Linked DNA regions of Homo sapiens. The protein of the gene in region 3 interacts with the protein of the main gene of each other region in a biochemical or structural test. Each region holds a gene or a part of one and is shown on either strand. Other genes may lie near its edges. The genes, in order: ASAP1, PTPN12, PXN and TLN1.

Region 1 (4,103 bases), on a different chromosome or scaffold from region 3:
CCTTAGTGATTTACAAGCCACATGTCTCCTGTGTGTGAATGAATGCCTCTGAGCCTCATTTGTCAGCTCTGTAAAGCTGAGGGGCTCACGCTTCTCCTGGGCTTGCTAAGGATTCAGGGGTTAATGCAGGCAGAGTGCCTGGGCCAGGTCTGCTCCACTGCGTGGCAGCACTAGTTGTGACAGCTACGTGACAGAAGTGCTGTCCACACGACAACATGTAAGCCTCGTGCCCCTCCACCCTCTTCTTGCCCTGTTCACATCAACGGGCGCACAAGTGGACGTGGTGGAGGTGGAATGCGGAAGGTGGAGGACAGAAAGGGGCCGAAGGCCCACAGTTTGTAAGCCGGGGCAAGTGCCACATATTTTTATGTATCCAGAGTGATCTCTGACAAGGGTTGGAGTGACCTGTGTCATCTATATACCCGAAAGCACAGCCAGAGGAAGCCTTGATTCTCTCCTGTCAGCAGGGTAGTGAACAACTCACAAAATGGCCTGATTTCAGAAGTTTGGGATCAACTGAGAATATGTTTATTTAAAAGCAATTTTAAATATTAAAAAAAGTAGAAATTAACACATACAGTACTGAAAAACTGTCACATTAAACACATGTGAAATGACAAGTGTACTGATGTTTGATGGTAACATCCAGATGAGAATTCGGCATTTAACTAGTGGCACTACAGGATTCCTATACAACATGTTGAAGTTCTAGGCAATAAAAAAATAAATAGCAATTGCTGTTCAACAGTAAAATAAGACACACACTATTTGCAGAACATAACTTTCCCCTCTGGGGGAAAAAGAACTAATTTGCTATTTTTTTTTCATAAGGTTCCATATCTTCAAAATACTATATAATGTACAAAATTGCAGATAGTGGCTTACTGAGTTTAAGATCAAGATCAGACTTAAACTCAACAAGATCACCAAAGGTATTTCTACTGAGTTTTCCTATGTCCCACAGTAAGCTGGGTTAGAGAGAACTCAAATTCCTGATGGAAAACAAAACCGAACAAAAAAACTAGAAAAAAAAGGTGTTAAAAATGCTGTGTAAGTTGCTGCAAAAGGGGAAAAAGAATAGACACTAACTCCATGTAATTTTAGACATGCAGCTTTTGTGTTTTTTTTTTGTTTTTGTTTTTTTTTTTTTTTTGAAAAAAACCAGTTTATTTTGAGATCAGTGAAAAGAGTCTAGGCCACAGAAAAGAACAGCTCTTTAATGCAAGTTAAAATGTGTAAATGAATGACCGGGACACTGAGCAACCTCAGATGCAGACTTCCATCCGGACACTGGTGTGGCTTCAGTACCGAGGCTGCTAAAGCTGCCAGTCACAACCCAGCATGTCAACTGGTTCCTCATGCTCTGTTTGGTGTGGAAATTCACATGTGCCCTGACACTGAGGAAGCAATTGCTTAAAATCACTTTCCAATAACAGCTGATAAAATATTTTGCAGGTTTGTCATGCAAGGTTTATTTATTAGGTGGCTATTCAAAGTTTGTATAGCAACCACTTAAGCAGAACTAAATTAATATTCACTGAGCACTGTAACGATGGAAGAGGGCTTTTCCTAAGGGTTGGGTTGGGAGTTGTGCTTCTGTGAAATTAACATCTCTCACTCATTGCCAAGATTCTCTGCTTAAAAATATTAGTTTTCTGTGCTGTTGCCAAAATAGCAATTTAAGCAAATGTAGTGCCAGAATGACACATGAGCCTCGGACTCAGGGAACAGTTCCACTGACTGTGGAGTACAACTATTGCATTCTTTTCCAAAATTCAGACTGATGTAAAAGACTGAAATACAATGTTCTTAAGGATCTGATAAACATGGCTGGGATGAAAAGAAAACTGAGAGGGAAGAGTGCTTTTCACAGTGCAATTCATAGCAGCGTTCAAAAACTTGGTTATGAATTGACTTGAAGGTGGACAGAGCTTAAGACTGGAAAAATTATCTATAATTGGGGTTTAACAAAGAGCATGGGAAAAGAAACACTTGGTTTCAGCACCTGGATTCTACATACAGTAGGGAAACTGTGTGAAGGGTTGACTTTTAAATTCATCTTGAATAATCTTTTAAAAGTTTAAATTTGTCCAAGAACAAAACTAAGAAAATAATAAAAAATGGATGCAATGGATGCTTCAACACATCTGAGAGATGTGCATTCATAACACAATATGTCAATCCATACTCTTGAGAAAGCCAGTGATTAGAAACAAATATTGTTGCAACCTTATAATTTCTGCTTTAATGGCAATCAAGTTTAAAAAATGTACAATTCCACTTATCCATACTATTCCTTTATAAAAGGCAGATTTCAGGTAAGCTTCTAAATGCATGCGTAATGTAGAGGCTAATATTTTCTGGCAGTCCTTGGTTCCTGAAATTTGAACTTCATATGTGTTTTAAACTTTTGTCAAAATAGTCATGAAAGATATGTTATTTTTGCATAATGAGGTAATATATCAGGGGCGGGCACTCATAAGACAGTATAAATCCACTTGTCTAAACTTGCATGAGGCTGTGTGCATTGTAAAATGCCATAAAGAGTTTTGGGTCAGTGAATATTTTGCTGAAGGAATAACACTTACATTTAACTGAGCACTTTTCTGTAATAAATACCAAAGTAGGTTTTTGTAGCTGTAAACTGTGTACACAGATAACTACAGGCTGGTCTGTCATGGAGCTAAAAGTTTCACCTGGAAAACAGAACCCACCTCTTTGCTAATGTTGCATTTTCAGTAACACAATTGAGAATACTGCATTGTTAGGAACAGAGTCAATTCTATGCCTTTCAACGGTTGCTGGAGACCACTTCTATTTGCAAAGCCAGCAGTTCCTATACTCCTATTTTTGTTTGTTTGCTTGTAGAACAGCATAGAGAGATGTAAGTGCTAGATGCCAAGGATGGCTTTGGCAAACCAGTAAGGCGCGCCGGGTCCGAGGCTACCCTCATACTGGTGAAGGCAGAAAACCACAGGATATTTACAACACACATTATATCCCCCTCCTGAGGTGGCCCTTCCATGAGTTTCTTACTCTGTAACAGCAGCTATATACACACTGTGCCCAGGGTTACATGAAGGCAGCAGTCTTGCATGAAGGATGTGGACAATCTTAAGGTTCTGCGTTTTGCTAGTCAGACAGGATATGAACAAAGGACACTGGAAAGACCCCCTTCCTTTCAGGCTGTCCTTCGATGTGGCCAATCTGCAGGGAGAAAAGAGAGTGGTCAGGATGGAGGCAGCAGGCAGTGGCCCCACGACAAACCCAGTGGGTAAGAGCCCAGCCTAGTCTGCCCACAGACCTGGCGGTGGAATCCCAGGCTTACCCTTCTTCCCACCCTTTAGTGAACTACAGAGAGCTTAACGGTCATAAACTACATAAGGAAAGAGCAAACGACAGAACTTCCAATATGCTCAGCATTCTACATGGATCTTGCTGTACCCACACAGCAACCCCCTGAGGTGGATATTTCTTATACAGTTTACAATCTTCATTTTACAGATGAAGGGACAGTGGCCCAGAGAGGTGACATGCTCTCCCACAGGCGTGGGGCTCTAGAGTCCTTGCTCTGAACCAGGGCGCCTGGCTGCCTTTACAGCTGGGTGACCTCACACAAACCTTGCTAAGCCTTTTCTCTGTTAAGTGGGGCTAAAGAAAATCCCTTCTCTCCAGGCTTGTGTGATACATTTAAAAAAGAAAAAAAAAAAAAAAAGCAAATGAAAAGGCTGCTATGGCACCTGGCCAATCCCAGTACTATTACCTATTCCTAGTTGGGAAGGAAGGGGTTTCTTTGCCCACAGCCCAGGTAGGATGCATACAGACCATTAAGCTGTGTCAGCTGCCTGGCAAGACCCACTGCGGGGTACCATACTCAAATCAAAGCTAATCTTGTTCTGTCTCTTCTCTTTGTGAGTAAAGTGTTGTTCTAGCCAGTAAAAAAAAAAAAAAAAGGCTGCTATGTACTATCACTTGTTTTCTGGTTACCGTGGAGGAAGAATACTGTGAAAGTTTGAGACTGATGGTGGCGAATGGCAATTTTATTGTCTGCTGCATTGGCCTGTAAGCCAGTTACCTGTAAAAATTTTCTAATTACCTCAATT
Region 2 (7,032 bases), on a different chromosome or scaffold from region 3:
CTACATTTATTTAGCTGGAGACGCAAGAAAATACAGCTTCTGGGTCCTCCTGAAAGAGGAGTTCCAGTCCAATACTTGATACATCTACCAAGAGTACCAGAACTCTCTCTTGCCACTAAAGAACTATCTACCTTATCCAGTAGTGGTAGTCTGAGTCATCACCATATGTCTCCTTGCCCTCTTGCTACTAACAGCGCACAGTGAAGAGATGGCTGTTGGAAGGAAGGGACACATAATCTTGGCATTCTGGTACCATTTCTTAAATTAAATGAACAAAACAAAAAGGGCAGTTCAGCCCTTTTTCTATCAGTTATCTTCCAGAAACTCTGTGCTTTTTCTCTCATGGCAGTTCTCACCCTTAAAAACTTTTATTTTCTAAGCGTGGCCCTTGCTTTGCAAATGCATGTTTCTCCCTGGAACTTTGGGCTGCCTTTCCTGTTAAAAACTTTTGTTTTAGAGGTTATCCAACCAGATATTGCGTATTTTATATAGGCTTTTGCAAATCATACACTGTATGGGGCCTTCTGTAGTTGAATCTGAGAAATCTTTCAGGAGGCCTAAGTCAAGACTGAAATTAGAATTGATAGCTAAGAATTTTTGTCAGGCAGTAACTTATGCAAAAGTTTTTTTTAGGTATCAATACAAAAGTATTCCATTATAGTCATGCACTACATAATGATGTTTTCATCAACAAGACCGCATAAACAACAGCGGTCCTGTAAGATTATGATACCATATTTTTACTGTACCTTTTCTATGTTTAGATACACAAATACTTACCATTGTGTTACAATTGTTGAGTATGGTAATATGCTATACAAGTTTGTAGCCTAGGAGCAAGAGGTTACATTGTATGGCCCAGATGTGTAGTATATACTATACCATCTAGGTTTGTGTAAATACATTCTATGACATTCACACAATGGCAAAACTGCCTAATGACATATTTTTCTTAGAACATATCCCTGCCATTAAGAAATGTGTGACTGTAATTCACTAACAAGTTCTAGGACCAAAAAACCCCCCAAAACTCTAATTCTGGTGCCAATGGCTCTATAAGATAATGATCTACAAAGGAAATAATAATCTATAAGGTAAATAAACAATCTATAAAGTAAATAATCCATATGGTAAATATTTGGCAACACATTAAAAATGAGACTACTTGTAGTTATGCTGCAACAAAGAACATTTACACACAGGAAAATCTTCGGTTAAAATCAAACCAATAACATAGTTAAGGTTGAGTAAAAAGAAACCAGAAATCACATGTATAGTGATTTTTGCTTTGAAATACAAAACCAAACAAACAGAAATGAGCTGGCACATAGTAGGGTGCTTTTAGCTATATCTTACTCTTTTTTTTTTTTTTTTTTTGAGACAGGGTCTCCCTCTGTTGCCCAGGCAGAGTGCCGGGACGCAATTATGGCTCACTGCAGCCTTGAGCTCCTAGGCTCAAGTGATCTTCCTACCTCAGCCTCCAGAGTAGCTGGGACCACAAGTGTGCACCACCATGCCCGGCTAGTTTTTTATCTTTTGTAGAGATTGGGTGTCACTATGTCACCCAGACTGGTTATGAACTCCTGGGCTCAAGTGAACTTCCTGCCTCAGCCTCCCAAAATGCTGGGATTACAGGCATGAGCCACCAACAGACTCGTCATGTAGTAGTAACTTTTAATAAGCATATCACATCATACATCTTTCTGGCCCTCACCAAATCCTATTTCCAGTAATGGTTTTTTGGTTTTTTTTAAAAAAAAAAGCAAAAGAACAAAACAACAACAAAAAAACAATAAAACTTCCTAGGTACAATACCACATGCTTGATATACTAAAAACTCAAAATGAAAATTTCTTATCTACATATTTTCTTATATAGTTACAGCTGGGCAGTTATATTTCAAATTCTGAAGCTGAGGAACAAAAGACATTAGCAATTTAAAATTATGGTAAACTGGTAAAGTAATATTATACTATTCATTATCTTCTAAAGATCCTTCAAATAAAACAAAGATAAATCAAGAAAAGATAATTCTGTAATTTAAGCAAATAGTTTAAGACTGTCACCTGGCTGGGCGTGGTGGCTCACGCCTGTAATCCCAGCCCTTTGGGAGGCCGAGGTGGGCGGATCACGAGGTCAGGAGATCCAGACCATCCTGGCTAACACAGTGAAACCCTGTCTCTACTAAAAATACAAAAAATTAGCCAGGCATGGTGGCGCATGCCTGTATTCCCAACTACTAGGGAGGATGAGGCAGGAGAATTCCTTGAACCCAGGAGGCGGAGGTTGCAGTGAGCCAAGATTGCGCCACTGCACTTCAGCCTGGGCAACAAGAGCAAAACTCTGTCTCAAAAAGACTGTCATCTAGTCTACCAAATACACTCTCTCAAGTTAAAAAATACAGTATGTGTGAGAGAAAATACAAGCACTACAGTATGGGTGGTATATAATGGGTCAGAAATAGAAAATAATCTTTCAAGGCCAGGTGTGGTAGCTCACGTCTGTAATCCCAGCACTTTGGGAGGCCTAGGTGGGCAGATCACTTGAGGCCAGGAATTTGAGACCAGCCTGGCAAACATATCGAAACCCTGTCTCTACTAAAAACATAAAAATTAGCTGGGTGTGGTAGTGGGTGCCTGTAATCCCAGCTACTTGGGAGGCTGAGCCGAGATCTTGCCACTGCACTCTAGCCTGGGTGACAGTGCAAGACTCAAAAAAAAAATCTTTTGAGTGCAAGTCTCAAAAAAAAAAAAAAATCTTTCAAGGTCACAGTACTTATTTTGCCTGCACGTTATAAATACCAGTCTGTATGTGTCACTACCAAAGTTCACTGATAGGTAAGTGACCACTGATAATCAATATATCAATAAACAGCTTTCAAATTTATATGTTTACTCTCAACCTTAGGGTCTGTTTAAGATGGTAGCCATCATTACTTTCAGCAGATCAAAGAGGAGTTTCAAGAAGCAATAATACACTTTGGGAACTGAGTGCATGCATTATCTTGAAATGCTAAGAGTGCTAAAAAAATAATAATTCTTTAAATAATAGCTTTGATGAGTAGGTATGCATATAGCCCACTCACTACTGAATTGAGCAGTTTGCAGTATTGTTCCTGGGTTAAACTCAGGGTTGGAAGCAGCCATATTTGGAAGCATTTGTGAAGACAGTAAAAACAAACAAACAAAAAAATGTAATCTGTAGTTAAAGGAACAGTAAAAAATGACTAAACATTTAGGAAAAACGAGTAACATTATATGGCCAATCAAGACATTCTACAGTATTTTTGCCACTGTTATTTTAAGTGATTCTTCCCTAAATTATTTCTAATTATTCAGTCAGATAAATTTTTGACCGATACAAAAACACTAAGATCTATAATACAGAAGAAAAAGAAAATAAGTTATCCAGTTATAACTACTAAAATAATTTAGAAACACAAAACCCAGTAATATAATGTGACCAAATTGTTAACAATACATTAAAAGCTTATATTAAAAAATTAGTATCTAAGACAGATTTTGCTGTAGGTTCTATGGTAGAGTGTGGAATAAAACATAATAAATCAATACAGCTAAAGTGCTTAAAACAGTGACTAGCACATAGGAAAGACATTTAAGTATTTGACACTATATTATTACCTTTTTCAGCACCTGAATGTGTTGTTCCTGCTATATTATGTCTAGCAATGGACATTGGCAATACTTTCCTAGTAGAAATGCTTTCAGTACTAGTGGCAGCAGAAACTGTGGCACTTGCTGTTGAAATATTAGTTTTATTCTGGGTCACAGCACCATCAGAGTTTCTTTCATCTGAGTCTGAGTCATCAGAGTGAAGTGGATTAGTAAAACTGAGGGGTGTTCTGAAGAGTGGTGAAGTGTTATCATGATCCACAAGATCAGGTGTTTCAACTTGTGTTGTAGGACTTGGTGTTAAACTCACAGTTTTCCTAGTTTGATAGTTGATATCTGAGGAATTGCCTTCAGATAAATCAGGTATGGGTATGGCATTTTCAGGTCCATGAAATGACCACGTTACATGTCCTTTCTCATCAAGAGGCAAGCGGTCTGGCCTTGGAGGTGTGTCTGAATTCTGGGATTCTTCTGGTGGAGTAACTGAAACTTTGTTTGATTGTGTTACACTGCAGTCCACACAAGAATTCTGGGAAGTATCACCGACATTTAGATCTGAACTTAATTCCTGTGGCTTAGAGATTTTATCAGCTATACAAGGTGAAGCAGATTTAATTTTAATTGCATGTCCCCTATTCAAAAGTGTGTTCCCATCAAAACTTTTTGGTCCCTCTTGGAGAGGGACCTTCTTAATCTCAAAACTTAAATTTCGTTCCAATTTTTTATCTATCTGTTCAATTGTTGATTCATTTTTCCCTGGAAGTTCTGTTGATTTACTATAGTTTCTGTTGAGGTCTGCTGAATGTTGTTCTGATGAAACCATATGCAACACTGGCTTTGGATGGTATCTATCATTGTCCTGCCACACAGTAGTGACTGTTGGAAAAGCTGAAGGGGGAGAAGGTGTCAAGATGGGTGGCACTGGATGAGGTTCCGGTGGCTGCAGTATTTCTTCTTTAGCATCCCCTTCAACAAGGCAACTGAAAAACAAACATTTAAAAAGGGCATTTTAAGACTGTTAAACAAGTTGATACCTGAGAATTATGTAGCTAAGAGTAGCATATTAAGAGCCATTACAATCTGGTTGCGAATAAAAACTGCAGTTTTTCAGACTAAGAAAATTTAATGTTCATCAAGGTAATACACATATACTGTTTAAAAAGTCAAATACAAGACTTTGAATGAAAAACATAGTCTCTGCCCCGCAGCCCTCCTGTTAGCCAGAGGCATCAACTTTCAACATTTTTTTATAGCTGCTTCTAAAATTTACACCTCTGTATTTCAGACTATTTCAAAAGTTATTTCTTGATCTTTGTTTCACACATTTTCTACTGACTTCCTACTGTGGAAGTGTCCTTCTCTATCTTTCCAATACTGTTATATTGTAATTTTTCATTACCTCAGTCGTATGACTGCAGATAGTATTCCCATCTATGACACCATGATTTCGTATCTTTTCTTCTATAGTGTCTTGTTTTCCCCTAATGACTGCCTTGGATTTCTGATGGCTTAGCTCTCTATGCATCATCAGTTACTCAGCTTTTCTTCTAACTTTCTTGCAGATTGGTATACCTCCTCTCAATAATGACAAGCACACATAGTAAGTATCAATACCACAGACATCCTTGTTAGTAACTTTTGGCCTCCTGCTCCAGTGTGGACTACTGGTTCCCTAGTCCATCACAGAGCTAATGTTCTCTCTGGTTTCAGATTCTCCTGTTTCCCAGGTCTCATTTTCCTCTTTCTGGGTATACTCCTTTGTTCGGGTGGGTTATACCCTCTAGTTGCCTTTATTTTTTTCCTTAAAGAAATAGGGGCCAGGCATGGTGGCTCACGCCTGTAATCCCAGCACTTTGGGAGGCCAAGGTGGGTGGATCAATTGAGCTCAGGAGTTTGAGACCAGCCTGAGCAACACAGTAAAACCCCATCTCTACTAATAATACAAAAATTTGCCAGGTGTGGTGGCACACACCTGCAGTCCCAGATACTTGGGAGGCTGAGGCAGGAGAATTGCTTGAGCCCAGGAGGTGGAGATGGCAGTGAGTTGAGATCACGCCACTGCACTCCAGTCTGGGCGACAGAGCAAGACTGTCTCCAAAAAAAAAAAAAAAAAAAAAAAGAGAGAGAGAGCGAGAGAGAGAGCGCGAGTGAGAGTGAGAGTGAGAGAGAGAGAGAGAGAGAGAGAGAGAGAGAGAGAGAGAGAGAGAGAGAGCGAGCAGCCTGGGCAATATGGCAAAACCCTGTGTCTTTAACAAATACAAAAAAATTAACTGGATGTGGCAATGCATGCTTGTAGTCCCAGCTACTAGGAAGGCTGAGGTAGGAGGATCACCTGAGCCTGGGGAGGTCAAGGCTGCAGGGAGCTCTGATCATGCCACTGCACTCCAGCCTGGGTGAAAGAATGAGATCCTGTCTCAAAAAAAAAAAAAAACCAAAGAAGAAGATAGGGTTTACTATGTTGCCCAGGCTTTGTTGCTTTTTAAGAACTTTATATGAAGCAAACTTCTTGAGGGCTTGTATATTTAAGTTTTTGTGTTCTGTTTTTCTTTTGAGATAGAGTCTTGTTCTGTCACCCAGGCTGGAGTGCAGTGGCACCATCTTGGCTCATTGGAACCTCTACCTCCTGGGTTCCAGCAATTCTTGTGCTTCAACCTCCTGAGTAGCTGGGACTACAGGCACATGCCACCACACCTGGCTAATTTTTGTATTTTTAGTAGAGATGGGGTTTTGCCATGTTGGCCAGGCTGGTCTCCAACTCCTGGCCTCAAGTGATTTGCCTGCCTCGGCCCCCGCAAAGTGCTGGGATTACAGGGGTGAGCCACTGGACCCCACCTCAGAGTTTTTGCTTTTTTTTCTCCCCCCAGGTGATCAACCTTTTTTTATCCAACCAGATAACTGGCAGTAATCACATGGTACACCAGGTTTCCCCTTAAAAGAGACTCTGTGGGCCAGGCATGGTGGCTCACGCCTGTAATCCTAGCACTTTGGGAGGCCAAGGCAGGCGGATCACAAGATCAGGAGTTTGAGACCAGCCTAACCAACATGGCAAAACCCCGTCTCTACTAAAAACACAAAACCCTAGTCAGGCATGGTAGCGTGCGCCTGTAATCCCAGCTACTCAGGAAGCTGAGTCAGGAGAATCACTTGAATTCGGGAGGCAGAGGTTGCAGTGAGCTGAGATCACGCCACTGCACTCCAGCCTAGGTGACAGAGCAAGACTCTGTCTCAAAATAAATAAAATAAATAAATAAAGACTCTGTGAAGTTCAGATTCTCTAGACACATTCCCACATTCCTAGGACATGAGAAGATAAATGAATATCTCCAGAATACTGATCATATTAAAATGACAGCAATACTCTCATAAGATATTCCTATATCTGTTCAAGTTTTACAAGTAG
Region 3 (7,775 bases):
GAGGAAGAGCAAGCAATCGGGTTAGAAAACACAGTCAGAGTGCATCTCAGTGTTGTGGGAACTCTGTCCAGGAAACTCCGGCCAGAACTTGAACAGAGCGAACTCTGGGCCAAACCAGCATCTAAACAGTAATAAGAAAAGCCACCAAGCAGCCACCCCAAAGAACAAAGTGGAGAGAACACACAGGGAAGGGCAGAACACGCTGTGTTGATATTTTTCTGCTCAGAGAGCTATAAATTTGTAACTTATTAAGCAGCACATGGTGAGTCTGTCATTGGCAACTATGGGAAGGAGAAGAGTTCCCCATTTTTTATTAGACCAAAAAACAAAGTCACAGAGGAGGTGATGCACCCTCTGGCCTTGCTACCGGACACACCATAAACTCTCCCCTGTGTTAGGGACCAGGAGGCACACGGCTGAGAGCACGCTCAGGAGAAAAATAAAAACAAGAGGTCTGGGCTTTGTGTCCACCCTAAGGAAAACAGCTGAGCCACCCTAAGGAAAACAGCTGATGGCAGTGTGCTGAGCCGCCATCCAGACAGCTGACGGGGCCCCAGTGCAAAGGCAAATTCCTCTCCCCTCCTGCACACCCCATTCCTCCCACCCCAGGCTCCGGTCAGTCAGGCGTGGCTTGCCCCTTGGGAGCTCAGGCCAAGGAAGTCGGGCAGCCCGGATGTAAGCAACTGGGAGTCTATGGTAGAAAGCAGTAGAAGTTACAGGTGATCGCCATCACCCAGTGGCAACCCCTCCTTCAAGTGCCCTTGCCTCCTCCCCAGGAAAAAAAGTCTTCTCGGTATACAAGAGCCACAGATCTGGGAGCTAGGAATTGGGCTTCCAGTTATGGTTTTGTCATTTCATGGCTGTGCAGCCTTGGGCAAGAGAATCAGCCTCTCTTCGTCTCGGCTTTCTCAATCTGTAAAAAGGCAGGTGGTCATGACAGCATTGGCTTTAAGGTGGAATCTGATAAAAGGGTTGTTGTGAGGATATCACAAATCGAGGTAGAGGGAAGTACTCCACAAACAGCAATTTAAATCCCTACAATCCCCTCTCCCGTATACAGTACTCTCTTTCCTTTCAGAACTCAGTTTCCTGGCCCTAAATGGAAGACTGTCAGAAGACAGGAATTCCAGATTTCGATGGCGAGCTCTACAAAGACTTTCTCAGTCCTTGAAACAGCACGGGGACTGCCGAGAAGCAACAGAACTGCACCAGCACTTTAGAAACTGTAACTTTGCTCCCAGTTCCCACTGGGAAAGCACTCAGACTCTTAGATCCTGGTTCAAAGAACATCCCCCAGCCTCCTTCCAGCTGAGCTATTTTTATGTGAAAAAAAAAAATACCTGCCTGGAAGCCATGCCAACCTTGAGCACACTGGAAAAATGGGTGCCAAGCCTGACCCAAAGGCAGAACCACGCTTGGCAGCCATCTCACTCTGCAAAACAGGCAGGACCCTACACCAACCCCAGCTCCAGGATCTCAGGGGCACCCTGATCCCAAAAGGAAGCTGGAGGGAAGCAGTCAAGTCCAGCACCTACAAATAGCCAGTCTTAACTTAGTGCCCGGCGCTGCTTGGTAGAGGTCCATCAGTCCTGTCTGCTGAATCTACTCCTCAGAGCCTGGGACAGAGGAAGCATCAGTGGTCACACAAGCCACCCACAGTCCAGAGAGGAAAGACAAGGCTCCTGCAGAGAAGAAACGTTGCCCCCCTCCTCACCTCCCAAGCTCAGGGCCCTCCAGCTACAGGCGTGAAGGGGAGGGAGAGACAGCGAATCCTCCCACTCCTGCGTTCACGCCACCCAAGGCATTCCTAGAACCCTGGCACCAACCCCCTTGGGTTTAGAGTCGGCTTCCAGGAGATACTTTCTTTCCCCTAACACCAGATCAAGACTGGACTGAAAAGAGTAGCCTTGGGGCTCCAATAACAGGAAAACAGTAAAACTCTGTTCTGGGCATCCTGTCCTCTTTCACCTGCGTGGCTTCCAGCAGGGCCTGACGCAGAGAGGGTGGAGGGGACTCTGCTAGCCAGGACACGTTCAGGGATGGTCATACCTTGGGGCCCACCTTCCACCTCATTCCCCTGGCATTTCACCAGAATCTAGGGGTGGGGAGAGAATCAGGACTCCCAAATTACCGTTCTAGACTTAGATACCATGGTAGACGGACTGGTCTGTGAATTGAGGGGCTGGTCCACAGAGCGGGGAGGTCAGTGAGAGAAAATGAGTGATGGGTCCTTGAAACGGGGTGACCAGATTTGAAGTGGGGGGTCAGAAGAGCAGGCAGACTGGGAAACTTGTCTTTGAAATGGGGGTGTGGTCATCACACGCTCATCTCTAGCTTTTGCATCTGACTTGTGAAATGAAAGGGGTGGGCTCCGAGGGGTTATCCCTGAAGGGGGGTGCTAGTCTGTGAAGTGGGGGGCGGCCCTGGAGGGACGGGGAGCAGGTCGAGGAAATGAGGGAGCAGCCCATGAGATCGGGCAGCTGCTCCCCGAGTTGGGCGGTCGATCTGTGAGGTGGGGGTGGGGAGAGGTCTGCGAGGTGAGGGTCCCGTAGCTGACGAGGTGGTCTGCCGCAGGAAGTCTCGTCCCTGCAGCGGACGGGGTGGGTCCCTGAGGGGCGGGCTGGTCCCTGGGGCCCTTCTGGGAGATGGTGATGGGTCCCCGAGGTCGGGGGTCCAGAGGTGAAGCCGTCCCAGACGGGGGGTCGCTGCTGTGCGGTCGGTGCCGGGGCCGGCCTGGCCCGAGACTAAGGCCCGGTTAGGGATCCCAGCCCCGCGGAGCCCCGGCCGGCAGGGACAGGAGCTGAGGCCGGGGCCGCCGAGGGTGGGATCCCGCGGCCCCTGCCGCTCGCTGGCGCCCTCCTGGCCCCAAGCTGCGCGCCTCTCGCCTCCTCCTCCCTCGGCCTCCCGCTCACTCACCGAGGTCGTCCATGGCCGGACCACGGGCGCCGGCTCAGGGTCGCGCTAGCTGCCCGTCCCGGGGCCGCTCGTCTATGCCCCGCAACTTTTCCGCCGCGAGCCTCGGCCCGGAACGGAACGCGCCGCCGCCGCGCGCGCCCGCGCCCGCGCCCGCCGCGCGCCCCGCCCCCGGCCGCCCCCTGTGCACGCGCGCCCCGCCCCCGGACACCCCCGCGAGCTTGCTGGCCCCGCCCCCTGCGCACGCTGGTCCCGCCCCCGCCAAGAGCCCGGGCAGTGGGCGTCGCTGGGCGGGGCGGTGGCGCCCCCTCGCGGCTAAGCGGGCAGGTGGGCGGCTCCCAGGCCTCCAGCCACTCCCATCCATCTTTCTGTCCCTCTCAAAGTCACTTGCCTGACCCTGCGGATGACAAATCCGTCCACAGTCAGCCATGTGTCTGTGCATTCGTCAGCCACTGGGTCATCACATGCCTGTCCACTGGACAGTCAGTTTTGCCCACCTGTCCGTCTGTCACCTGTAGGTCACCACCCAGGAGGACCATAAATCAGTACCAGGCAAGGCCCGGAGCCCGTGGCTGACCTTTCCTGGGGTCGTCCTCTGGATCAATGGCAGTGCAGCTCGCAGTTCACCCTTTCTGGCCCAAACCCAATACCTGTGTGGTTCCATCTCTCTTAATATTACTTCCACACAGCCACCCTCCCTAGACACTTTTCCAAAACTGCATGGGGCAGAGGGGTCCCCAGATTAGACATTAAAGGGAAAACTACAGGAAAGTCACACCCAGTGCTCCCACACACTCGGAAATTGGGTAATAATAACAACTACCATTTATTGAGTGTCTGAATAGACAGACACTATATAGCTATTCTCTAAATTAATCCTCCTAGAGGTACTTCCCTACCCGTTGGGATGGGTGATGGCAGTTTGTGGATTTTATATAAAACTGCTCTGCAAGTACAGCTTCGAGTTCCCCTTGTCCCTCAAGAATCCAGGCCTTCTGGGTCAGATCAGGTCCTCCAGAAAGCAGATGAGATGCTGAGATAAAGCTAGGGGTAATGCCCGTGACAGAGAAGGGGAAATAAGCAGGGTTGGGCAAGGAGACTCAGATCTGACAAACAGGTCAACCCATCAGGGAATTCCAGGACAAAAAAAATGAGAAGTCTCCTTGGGCAGAAGTATCCGGGTTCCAATGCTCCCACCATGTTCAGTCATTTTATAAAGGCAGATCCAAGCAGCTTCTGTGGCTGCCACATTCTCCTATAATAAATTCAAGACCAAAGACTGTTCCTCAAACACTCTATTGCGTGGTTTTCCAGCATCTTGCACATACCTCTATTTTGTTTTAGTTTTTGTGTTTTTGTTTTTGTTTGAGATGGAGTCCCAATCTGTCGCCCAGGTTGGAGTGCAGTGGTGCAATCTCAGCTCACTGCAACCTCCGCCTCCCAGGTTCAAGTGATTCTCCTGCCTCCTGCTGGGATTACAGGCGCATACCACCATGCCTGGCTAATTTTTGTATTTTTAGTAGAGATGGGGTTTCACCATGTTGGCCAGGCTGGTCTTGAACTCCTGATCTCAGGTGATCTCCTGCCTCCTGGTGGGATTACAGGCGTGTACTACCATGCCTGGCTAATTTTTGTATTTTTAGTAGAGACAGGGTTTCACCATGTTGGCCAGGCTGGTCTTGAACTCCTGACTTCAGGTGATCCGCCCCCCTCAGCCTCCCAAAGTGCTGGGATTACAGGTGTGAGCCACCACGCCCAGCCTGTTTTTGTGTTTTTAAGACACAGTCTTGCTTTGTTGCGTAGGCTGGGATGATGAATAAGACTAACATGATGTCTACCTTCTTGAATCTAAAGGTGCACGCAAAAGAGCAAAGTGGTTAGCATGAAGGATGAGTAGCCTCGCCCCACTCCCAGCTGTGTGGAACAGCATGTGCAAAGGTCTGTAGACAAGACATTTAATACTGACCACAAGCCTAGGAGATGAGCATTGTTAGCCCCTTTTACAGCTGGAAGAGTTGAGAGTCAGAGGTTGAATTACTCCAGGTCATACAGCTAATAAGTAAGGAAACTGAGATTTGAACCTGGGGAGGCTTATGCCAAGGCCTGGTTATGAAACGGCTAAGTGAAACTGCTAACAACTTAGACCAACCCCAGGGCATACGCTTGTCCACTTCTCCAAAGGTCTAAAACCTTTCTTTTTCAAAGCTGTGTGGTCTGGAAATGCGAGGCACCCATTGAATGGGCAAGTTTCCCATTGCTATGCAGAGTTCTAAAGAGAACTGAAGCTTCAGAGTTGAGTGCTGGTGCACTCGAACACTCAGGTCCCTGCCAGGGATTTCCTCATGTAAATCATTCCTAAACCCCCATTTCCTCCCTGGCTTCCTTCTTCCCTTGGACTCTCACCCCACAGCAATTAAACTTGGTGTCTAGTTCAGGCTGCTACAACAAAATACTGTAGACCGAGTGACTTATAAACAACAGAAATTATTTTTTCACAGTTTTGGAGGCTGAAAGTTCAAGATCAGGGTGCCAGCACAGTCAGGTTCTGGTGAGGGCCCTCTTCTGGGTTGCAGACTGTTGACTTTTTGTACCCTCACACGGCTCAAAGAGGGTCCCTTTAATAAAGGCACTAACTAATCTCTTTCATGAGGGCCCTGCCCTCATGACCTAATCACCTGTCAGGCCTCACCTCCTAACACTATCGAATTGAGATTAGATTTCAACATATGAATTTTCAAGGATATGAACATTCAGTCCCTTGCATTTGATAAAATCAATCAGGTTTTTTCATTCTTCCTAAAGATTAAACGACATTGACAGAGCAGATGGACAACCCTGCTGACTTCTTGCTAGTGGTTCATCTTGGGCAATTTACTCTGTGCCTCAGTTTCTTCCCCTATAGAAAGGTTAATAGTAGCTACCTCTCAGAGTCCTCATAGGACTAAATAAGAAACGACACACCTAGTACTTAGAATGGTCCTTGTCACCACAAAATAACACTCTTCACTCAGCAATAGAAACAGAACTCGACCAGGCTCACACCTGTAATCCCAGCACTTTGGAAGGCCAAGGCGGGCGGATCACTTGAGGTCAGGAGTTCGAGACCAGCCTGGCCGACATGGCGAAACACCATCTCTACTAAAAATATATAAATTAGCTGGGCATAGTGGTGTGCACCGGTAATTCCAGCTGCTCAGGAGGCTGAGGCAGGAGAATCACCTGAACCCAGGAGACGGAGGTTGCAGTGAGTCGAGACTGTGCCACTGCACTCCTGCCTGCGCGACAGAGTGAGACTCTGTCAAAAAAAAAAACAAAGAAAGAAAGAAGGAAGGAAGGAAGAAAGGAAGGAAGGAAGGATGGAAGGAAGGAAGGAAGGAAAGAAAGAGAGAGAAAAGAAACAGAATGCAAGCCGGATATGCAATCAAAACTTTTCTTTTTTTTCTTTCTTTTTTTTGAGACAGAGTCTCACTCTGTCGCCCAGGGTGGAGTGCAGCGGCATGATCTCAGCTCACTGCAACCTCTGCCTCCCGGGTTCAAGTGATTCTCCTGCCTCAGCCTCCTGAGTAGCTAGGATTACAGGCACCCGCTATCACACCCGACTAATTTTTGTTTTTGTTTTTTTTTTTTTTTTTGAGACGGAGTCTTGCTCTGTCGCCCAGGCTGGAGTGCGGTGGCGCGATCTCGGCTCACTGCACGCTCTGCCTCCCAGGTTCATGCCATTCTCCTGCCTCAGCCTCCCAAGTAGCTGGGACTACAGGCGCCCGCCACCACGCCCAGCTAATTTTTTCTATTTTTAGTAGAGACGGGGTTTCACCGTGTTAGCTAGGATGGTCTCGATCTCCTGACCTCGTGATCCGCCCATCTCGGCCTCTCAAAGTGCTGGGATTACAGGCGTGAGCCACCGCGCCTGGCCAATTTTTGCATTTCTTTAAGTAGAGATGGGGTTTCACCATGTGGGCCAGGCTGGTCTTGAACTCCTGACCTCAGGTGATCCCACCTGCCTCACCTCCCAAAGTGCTGGGATTGCATGTGTGAGCCGCCGCGCCCGGCCCAATCAAAACTTTTTTAGCCAAGTGCAATGGCATATGCCTGTAGTCCCACCTACATGGGATACTGAGGCAGGAGGATTGCTTGAGTTTAGGAGTTTGAGTCCAAACTGGGAAACTAGCAAGACCTCCTCTCTAAAAAATATCTTTAAAAAAATAAAAGAAACAGGCCAGGCACGGTGGCTCATGCCTGTAATCCCAGCACTTTGGGAGGCCAAGATGGGTGGATTACCTCAGGTCAAGAGTTTGAGACCAGCCTGACCAACATGGTGAAACCCCATCTCTACTAAATATACAAAATTAGCTAGGTGTGGTGGCACATGCCTGTAATCCCAGCTACTTGGGAGGCTGAGTCAGGAGAATCGCTTGAACCCGGGAGGCGGAAGTTGCAGTGGGCCAAGATCCAGCCTGGCTTACAAGAGCAGAACTCCATCTCAAAAAATAAAAAATAAAAAAATATATGGCCGGGCACGGCGGCTCATGCCTGTAATCCCAGCACTTTAGGAGGCCGAGGTGAGCAAACAACCTGAGGTCAGGAGTTCAAGACCAGCCTGGCTAACAGCCTGGTCTACTAAAAACACAAAAATTAGCCGGGCATGGTGGTGGGCACCTATAATCTCAGCTACTCCAGAGGCTGAGGCAGGAGAATCGCTTGAACCTGGGAGGTGGAGTTTGCAGTGAGCCAAGATCACACCACTGCACTCCAGCCTGGGGGACAGAGTGAGACTCCATCTCAAAATAAATAAATAAAATAGATAAAATTAATGTTAATAATATATTTTATTTAATTCAATATATCCTCAGTGTTGGCTGGGC
Region 4 (7,247 bases), on a different chromosome or scaffold from region 3:
ATACTTCTCCAAATAATAAGTTGTGAAGCCAGGATCCGAACCCAGGTTTCTGACTGCAAAGCCCAAGCTTTCTCCACTACGCCAGCCAGCTGGAGATGTGTCAGGGGTAGTTTTCACTCCAGGCAGAGAAATAGCATAAGCAAAGATGGAGAAGCAGTAAATCGTGGAGGAGCATTCAGGGAAGTGAGCAGGCAGGCTGTTGAAGCACAGGGGTACCTGCAAGGGAGCAGTGGTGGGGAAGTCAGGGTTAGGATGGAAAGGCAGAGGAAGACTGGAGAGGGGTATGAGGAATTTTACTTATTGGAGGACAAAAGGAAGCCAAGGGAGTCTTTGAGCAGAGAAGAGACATAACCGGAACTGGATTTTAGAAAAATAACTCTGGCAGTTACCTTGGAGATTAGTTAGAAGGACACTGTATTAGTACAAATTAAAGGTAATGAAGCCGGAGTTGGAATGGCATTGAGGAAGATGTCACTCAGAACAAGTTTGGGGAGGTAGAAATGACAGGACCTAATAACTACTAAGGTAGACAGGTTAGAGTCCCACAGCTTCCTATCATCAGCAGCCACTTTAGCGGCTGGGGCAGCTTGAGTTTAGGCGACGAATTGGGAAGAGGGGAAAGGATCAGGTTGGGCAGAGAATGTGAGGATGAGGCTGTGGTTACGGGATGTGGTTAGGCTGTGGGGAAAAAGGGTATGAGTATATGATTAGTAGCCACTAGGGGCAGATGGGGTTGGGTTAGTGACTGCATCAGGCTGGGAATGGGGAAGACAGGGTGTAGAAAAAGGATGAGAAGACAGGGTGTAGAAAAAGAATGCTGGTGATGATGGTGTTTGGAAAAATACATATACATAAGATACATATATGACCAGTCACTGCATCAGGTTGGGGGAAGGGGAATGATTACATGGATGGTGGCTAAGTCAGGGAATGATGGGGTGAGGTCAGAGGCCAGGTCAGGCTATAGGAGGTTGAGAAGAGCTGGGCCTGTGGTCAGTCACTAAATCAGACTGGGGTGGGGGTGGGAAAGTGAAGGGACATTGGCAATGTCTAAGTAAAGCTGGAGCTGGGATGGGGGATGGGGTACAGCCAGTGGCTGGGTCAGGCTGAGTAGAGGATAGTGCTGTGGTCAGTGGCAGGGTCAGGCTGGGAGTGAAGTGGGGGTGTGGTCAGTGGCCTGGCTGGGCGTGGGATCAGCAAGACCCAGTTTCCTCTTTGGGTCTCGTTTCCTCTTTTCTGTTGGGGAGTGGGGGAAGGGGATCTACAAATGGTCCAAGAAATTAAAAGAGGCTTAGATCCAGGGGGTGACACACAGCAGGGGATGGGAGTAGGGTATTCAGCAGATGACCAGGTGGAATGTAGGTACATGACTGGGTGAAAATGGTAGGAGAGTAATTTAAAATGATGGGAAAGCTCAGGTTTTGATGAGGGTAAATTCAGGTAGGATGTGCGGATTAAAGGTTGGTGAGGGAGGTAGAACTAAGGATGGGAACGGATGATAAGATGAGCATGGGAGAGTTAAAGGCAAGGGAAGTATTTTGTAAGGGGATAGGCAGGATGGGTGTGAAATGCAGAGTCAGGGATGAGAGTTGGAGAGGAGGGCTTAATACCAAGAGAACAAGTGAAGTGGGAGAAGCAGGGCTAAACTTTCAGGGGATTCAGTTATTCCCTTCTCCCATGGCAACAGTGATTCCTTGGTTAGCTTCCCCCATAGTCATCAGCTCCTTCTTCCCTAGGCAGTCCCCAACTTGTGACTAGGCCTTGTACATCCTGGGTCCCTATTTCCCACCTATGTTGTCTGTAAACAACACAGTCCAGAATCTCTGTCCCCTAACTGTGGTGGCCACAGCAAGGGCCTTGGGCTTAGAGAATGGAATAAAGAAGCTGGAATCCCAGATGCCTGCAATTCTAGCTAAAGCCAGAACGCTAGCCTGAAATTAGTTTATCTCTCTGGGTAAAAAGAAGCCCCTGTAACTACATAGGAATAAAGGATTTCCCTACAAAAGAAGGGCATTTACCTACTGCCAACCTCTTAAATTTTATCTGCTCAAGGTCAACTATGCTAGCCTCAAACCACAACCCCTAAAGCTGCCCCAAATTCCTAACATTAACCCCACCTCTAATTTGTTTCCTGATTCCCAGTACCGGCTTGGACATTCATCCCTTTCCTAGCACAGACTCATATCCAATCCCTGATCCCTGAAACTGATCTAAGTTTTGCCTTTAGCACCAAATCCCCTGATGTTAACCCTAAATGTTGACCCCTAAGCCTAAAGTTCATTTATAATTTGATTCCTAACTCACGCTTTCACTGTTTATCCTTAACACCGACCATGCCAACATTCTTTAATCCCTCAAACAAGCTCTAACCTGATTCCTGTTGTTTGTTGACCCTTAACCTGACCCTGAACTCAAATTATGACGTATGATGGCCATCCCAGCAAACAAGATAATGACCGTAATCTAAACCTTACCTATCTAAAACGGACCTGACTCACACTAACTCTTAAGTTTTAACCCCAGCTTTTAACTCCTATAGCGACCCTTGATTCCTAAACGGACCCCACCTAATCCCCAACTCACCCAAAGCTTTCCTACCCACATGCCCGCTATCAGCTAACACCAAAGCCCGTCCCCGCCCTGCGCCCCGCTGCCACCCGACTCCTCACGCTCCCCAAAGCCTATCCCAGACATAGGACTGCTCCCAGGAAAGGCCTGTCTTCCCCAAGACGGCCTACTTCACGCCGAGCTCAAGCCGAGATGCGCTGGACGCTGACCTCTCCAACTAATAGGACCCGAACCGGACACGCAAGAGAGGCAGGGCCCGCCCGCCCCGGGGCCAGGCCCCGCGGCCCCACCCTAAGGCCCCCGCCCGGCCCGGTCTGGCCTACCTGCGCTGCCTGGCTCTGCGCCCCGCCCGCCGGCCCGCCGCCCCGCCGCTTCTCGGGTCGCCCTCGGGCTCCGGCCTCGCCCTCCCTTCGACACTCTCTCGGCCACTTCCGTCCTGGGAACGTCCCCCACCCGCGGGCGGCGCCCTGGGCCCGCGCTCTATGGTCGCGGGGGGCAGGCAGGAAGCTGCTCTGGCCCCGTTCTCGATGCTCGGGAGCCGCCAAAGCCCGGCAGCCCCTCCCTGGCAGGAAGCGAGGGTGCGGCGCAATCCGGAGAGGACGCCAGGACGACGCCCGAGTTCCCTTTCAGGCTAGAACTCTTCCTTTTTCTAGCTTGGGGTAGAAGGCGGAGCCGGAGCCCCGGAACCCCCGCCCTCGGGGTGCGAGGCGGCAGCAGGGCCGTCCCCTACATTTGCATAGCCCCTGGGACGTGGCGCTGCACCCAAGCCTCTTCTCAGTTGGAGGGAACTCCAAGTCCCACAGTGCCACGGGGTGGGGTGCGTCACTTTCGCTGCGTTGGAGGCTGAGGAGAATTGAGCCTGGGAGGCGGGTCCGGAGAGGGCTATGGAAAGCCGCCGGCGGGGAATCCCGGCCGTAGAGGGACAGTGGATAGGTGCCCGAGGCCTACAGCTGGCCTGGGGCTCGTGTCTGGGCTTCGGACGTTGGGGCCCGGTGGCCCACCCTTTCCGTAGTTGTCCCAAATGGAGCTGGAATTGGATGCTGGTGACCAAGACCTGCTGGCCTTCCTGCTAGAGGAAAGTGGAGATTTGGGGACGGCACCCGATGAGGCCGTGAGGGCCCCACTGGACTGGGCGCTGCCGCTTTCTGAGGTAGGTTGGGGTTCTGACTGGGGAAAGCGTGGGATGTCCATGAAGTCAGGTGATGGTGATAAGGTCAAGGCCTGTTCATTGGAACCCTGCGCAGGTACCGAGCGACTGGGAAGTAGATGATTTGCTGTGCTCCCTGCTGAGTCCCCCAGCGTCGTTGAACATTCTCAGCTCCTCCAACCCCTGCCTTGTCCACCATGACCACACCTACTCCCTCCCACGGGAAACTGTCTCTATGGATCTAGGTGAGTCTGAAATAAGTTTGCGGGGAGGACAGGGTTCATGGGCCTGGCTATTCATACTTTCCCTTTTGCAGAGAGTGAGAGCTGTAGAAAAGAGGGGACCCAGATGACTCCACAGCATATGGAGGAGCTGGCAGAGCAGGTACTTGACTTGATTTTCAGGAGATTACTCTCACATTCCCCAGGTGGGGGCAGGATTCCCCATTCCTCTCTGACATCCCCATGCAACTGCCGTCCACTTTCTTGTTACCCTAGGAGATTGCTAGGCTAGTACTGACAGATGAGGAGAAGAGTCTATTGGAGAAGGAGGGGCTTATTCTGCCTGAGACACTTCCTCTCACTAAGGTAAGACTCTCATTGGTTGAACAAAGGCTGAAAAGGGATTAAAAGTCCCAAGTAGGCAAATTCTGTTAACTTTATATCAATAACTTTAAAAAAGGATTGAGGTGAGAAACTTAGTAGATTTATTGCTAATAGGAAGTTGAGGCAGGTACACAATATGCCAGATGCAAGGGCAGATCCTCGTTTTTGTTGGGCTTATACAAATTTTGGTGTTCTGTTAAAAAAATAACTCAAAATTATCAGTGCAACATTAGTATTGGGCCTTGGAAAGGACTGTGTAAGTGAAGGGCCTTGACACTTCGTTGGCTTCATAGTAATCCACCTCTTGCTGAATGGTAGAACTGTTTAGAGAGTTCAACAGGGTTGGACTAAGCAGTACATGAATAAATGTAAAATCCTTAGTTTTCAGTTTTAAGCAATGAGTGGCAACTTCACAAGCAGAGTACTGGGGTACTATGATGAAATCAGTGCTCATTAATAGAAAGGTTACAGGAATATATATATATTTTTTGACAAGGTCTTGCTCTGTTGCCCAGGCTGGAGTGCACTGATGTGATCATGGCTCACTGCAGCCTTGACTTTCTGGGCTTAGGTGATTCTCCCACCTCAGCCTCCCGAGTAGCTGAGACTACAGGTGCACACTACCCTGCCCGGCAATTTTTTTTTTGGTATTTTTAGTAGAAATGGGGTTTTGCCTTGTTGCCAGGCTGGTCTCGAACTCCTGGGCTCAAGTGATCTACCCACCTTGGCCTCCCAAAGTGAAGAATTTTAATTTCTTCAAAGTACAAGATGAGTCAGCAGTGTGATGTGGCTACTAAGAAAGTTCATGGGATTTGGAAACTGTAGCAATAGAGTTATTGTCTCTACAAGTCACTCTCTTGCTTTCCTTGATACTGGCTAGAGCACATCTTTGACAGATACTAAGAGGATGCAGTCTATCCTGAGAAGATGAGTTAAAAATTTTGTCTTTTTTTTTTTCTTTAAGCTCTGAGGAAATGTTAAGTGCCTTAAAATAGCTAAACAGGGTTTATTCTATTTGGCCCCAGAGATACTAGGTAAGTCCAACGGATAGAAATTATAAGGAGGCAGCTGTTGGTTCAGGATAAGGAAGTTTTTATTTGCTTGTTTGAAGACAGGTTCTTGCTTTATTGCCCAGGTTGGAGAATAGTGGCGAGATCATGGCTCACTACAGCTTCAACCTCTCAGGCTCAAGTGATCCTCCTTCCTCAGTCTCCTGAGTAGCAGGGACCACAGGCATGTGCCACCACACCCGGCTAATTTTTTATTTTTAGTAGAGACAAGGTCTCACTATGTTGCTCAGGCTGGTCTCAAACTCCTGGGCTCAACCGGTCCTCCTGTCTTAGCTCCCCAAAGTGTTGGGATTACAGGCATGAGCCACGTCGCCTGAATACTGCCCGACCAGTTTTTTTTTTAATAGTTTAAAATGGTCTGGCTTGTTAGGGTTAACACCTGGTCCGTGGAGGCATTCAGAAAGAATCTGAATGCCTGTTGGTCAGGGAAGCTGTAGAAGGGATTTCTGTATTGGAAAGAGATTGATCTCAGTTGCGTTTCAACTCCTTTTTCTAGAGTTCCTCTAATGATATCCCTTTCCCTGTTTCCTTTCAGACAGAGGAACAAATTCTGAAACGTGTGCGGAGGAAGATTCGAAATAAAAGATCTGCTCAAGAGAGCCGCAGGAAAAAGAAGGTGTATGTTGGGGGTTTAGAGAGCAGGTATGAAAGGGAGAGGGACTCTGTTGTAAGTATTAGGTTTTTGAAGGGAGGATACAGGCCATATCCCCGTATCTTTGTTATTTCCCCCAGGGTCTTGAAATACACAGCCCAGAATATGGAGCTTCAGAACAAAGTACAGCTTCTGGAGGAACAGAATTTGTAAGTATCCCTCCAAACCATTCCCTTCCTATGCCCCTCATTTAATGCTTTCTCACTCTTTCCCCTGCCCTACACTTGATTTCTAACTGGGCAGCTGCCTTCACTAGGTCTCTGATTCCAAGAAGCTCCCAGTAGTGAGGAATACATTTACAAGTAACTAAGAATAAGTTAAGTACCAAGAAAAAGAAAGGGGGTAAGAAAGACGTCATGGGCTTTCATAGTAGTTAGGATTCTGGGGTTGGGTTGGGAAAGCATTCTAGGCAGAGAGAAAGCATCCTAGGCAAGAGGACTAGTCCAGCATAGTCATCTTGGGCTGGAACTCTTAACACACATGAGCTGGGACAGAAGGTAGAGAACATAGAAAATGCCTGGTGAGGATTATGTGCATAGCTGATCAGACAGTGGGGAACGACTGATGATATTCGCAAAGGAGGTTAAGTCCTGGCAGAGTTTTTTTGTTTTGTTTTGTTTTTGCTTTTTGTTGTTGTTGTTGTTTTAATGAGGAACTTCAGGCATTTTGTCCAGAGAGGAAGAAGTCGTTTGCAAAAATAGAATGAAAAGTAAGAGAGAGGATCCAGTGCAGAGATGGAGGAGGTGGCCTGAACAGGAGTTTCACTGTGTCTCAGGATGCTAGGCCAGGGGATGCTCACTATTGGCCCCTCTCTTCCTCTAGGTCCCTTCTAGATCAACTGAGGAAACTCCAGGCCATGGTGATTGAGATATCAAACAAAACCAGCAGCAGCAGCACCTGCATCTTGGTGAGGATGGTGATGAGGGGAGAAATCCTTTTCTCAGTTGGTGGGGACAGGGCAATCCAGAGCCCTTCTTCATCTCCTTTTTCCTGTGCTCTAGGTCCTACTAGTCTCCTTCTGCCTCCTCCTTGTACCTGCTATGTACTCCTCTGACACAAGGGGGAGCCTGCCAGCTGAGCATGGAGGTAAGAGGCTTAAGGATAGCTCTCAGACAGGGCAAGGGGAGAGGTCTGGGTTGGCCTCTGAAGATTCTTTGTCTCCTCAGTGTTGTCCCGCCAGCTTCGTGCCCTCCCCAGTGAGGACC

Evidence for each region.
Region 1: the proteins of PXN (region 3) and ASAP1 form a complex in vitro, tested with the Homo sapiens proteins (one study listed by BioGRID).
Region 2: the proteins of PXN (region 3) and PTPN12 form a complex in vitro, tested with the Homo sapiens proteins (4 studies listed by BioGRID and IntAct, with this or other methods).
Region 4: the proteins of PXN (region 3) and TLN1 form a complex in vitro, tested with the Homo sapiens proteins (3 studies listed by BioGRID).

The regions. Positions count from the first base shown.
Region 1 is NC_000008.11:130,051,599-130,055,701, forward strand, and holds the end of ASAP1 (arf-GAP with SH3 domain, ANK repeat and PH domain-containing protein 1), read right to left. Parts: intron 3,208-4,103; coding exon 3,133-3,207; 3' UTR 506-3,132; downstream 1-505. UniProt on the Homo sapiens protein: Possesses phosphatidylinositol 4,5-bisphosphate-dependent GTPase-activating protein activity for ARF1 (ADP ribosylation factor 1) and ARF5 and a lesser activity towards ARF6.
Region 2 is NC_000007.14:77,624,285-77,631,316, reverse strand, and holds part of PTPN12 (tyrosine-protein phosphatase non-receptor type 12), read right to left. Parts: intron 4,613-7,032; coding exon 3,642-4,612; intron 1-3,641. UniProt on the Homo sapiens protein: Dephosphorylates a range of proteins, and thereby regulates cellular signaling cascades. Dephosphorylates cellular tyrosine kinases, such as ERBB2 and PTK2B/PYK2, and thereby regulates signaling via ERBB2 and PTK2B/PYK2.
Region 3 is NC_000012.12:120,262,701-120,270,475, forward strand, and holds the start of PXN (paxillin), read right to left. Parts: upstream 3,031-7,775; 5' UTR 2,930-3,030; coding exon 2,917-2,929; intron 1-2,916. UniProt on the Homo sapiens protein: Cytoskeletal protein involved in actin-membrane attachment at sites of cell adhesion to the extracellular matrix (focal adhesion). Recruits other proteins such as TRIM15 to focal adhesion.
Region 4 is NC_000009.12:35,729,184-35,736,430, forward strand, and holds the start of TLN1 (talin-1), read right to left. Parts: upstream 3,013-7,247; 5' UTR 2,892-3,012; intron 1-2,891. Other genes in the region: CREB3 (cyclic AMP-responsive element-binding protein 3), read left to right, coding at 3,590-3,718, 3,813-3,960, 4,032-4,099, 4,213-4,302, 5,926-6,032, 6,123-6,191, 6,865-6,949, 7,044-7,128 and 1 more. UniProt on the Homo sapiens protein: High molecular weight cytoskeletal protein concentrated at regions of cell-matrix and cell-cell contacts. Involved in connections of major cytoskeletal structures to the plasma membrane.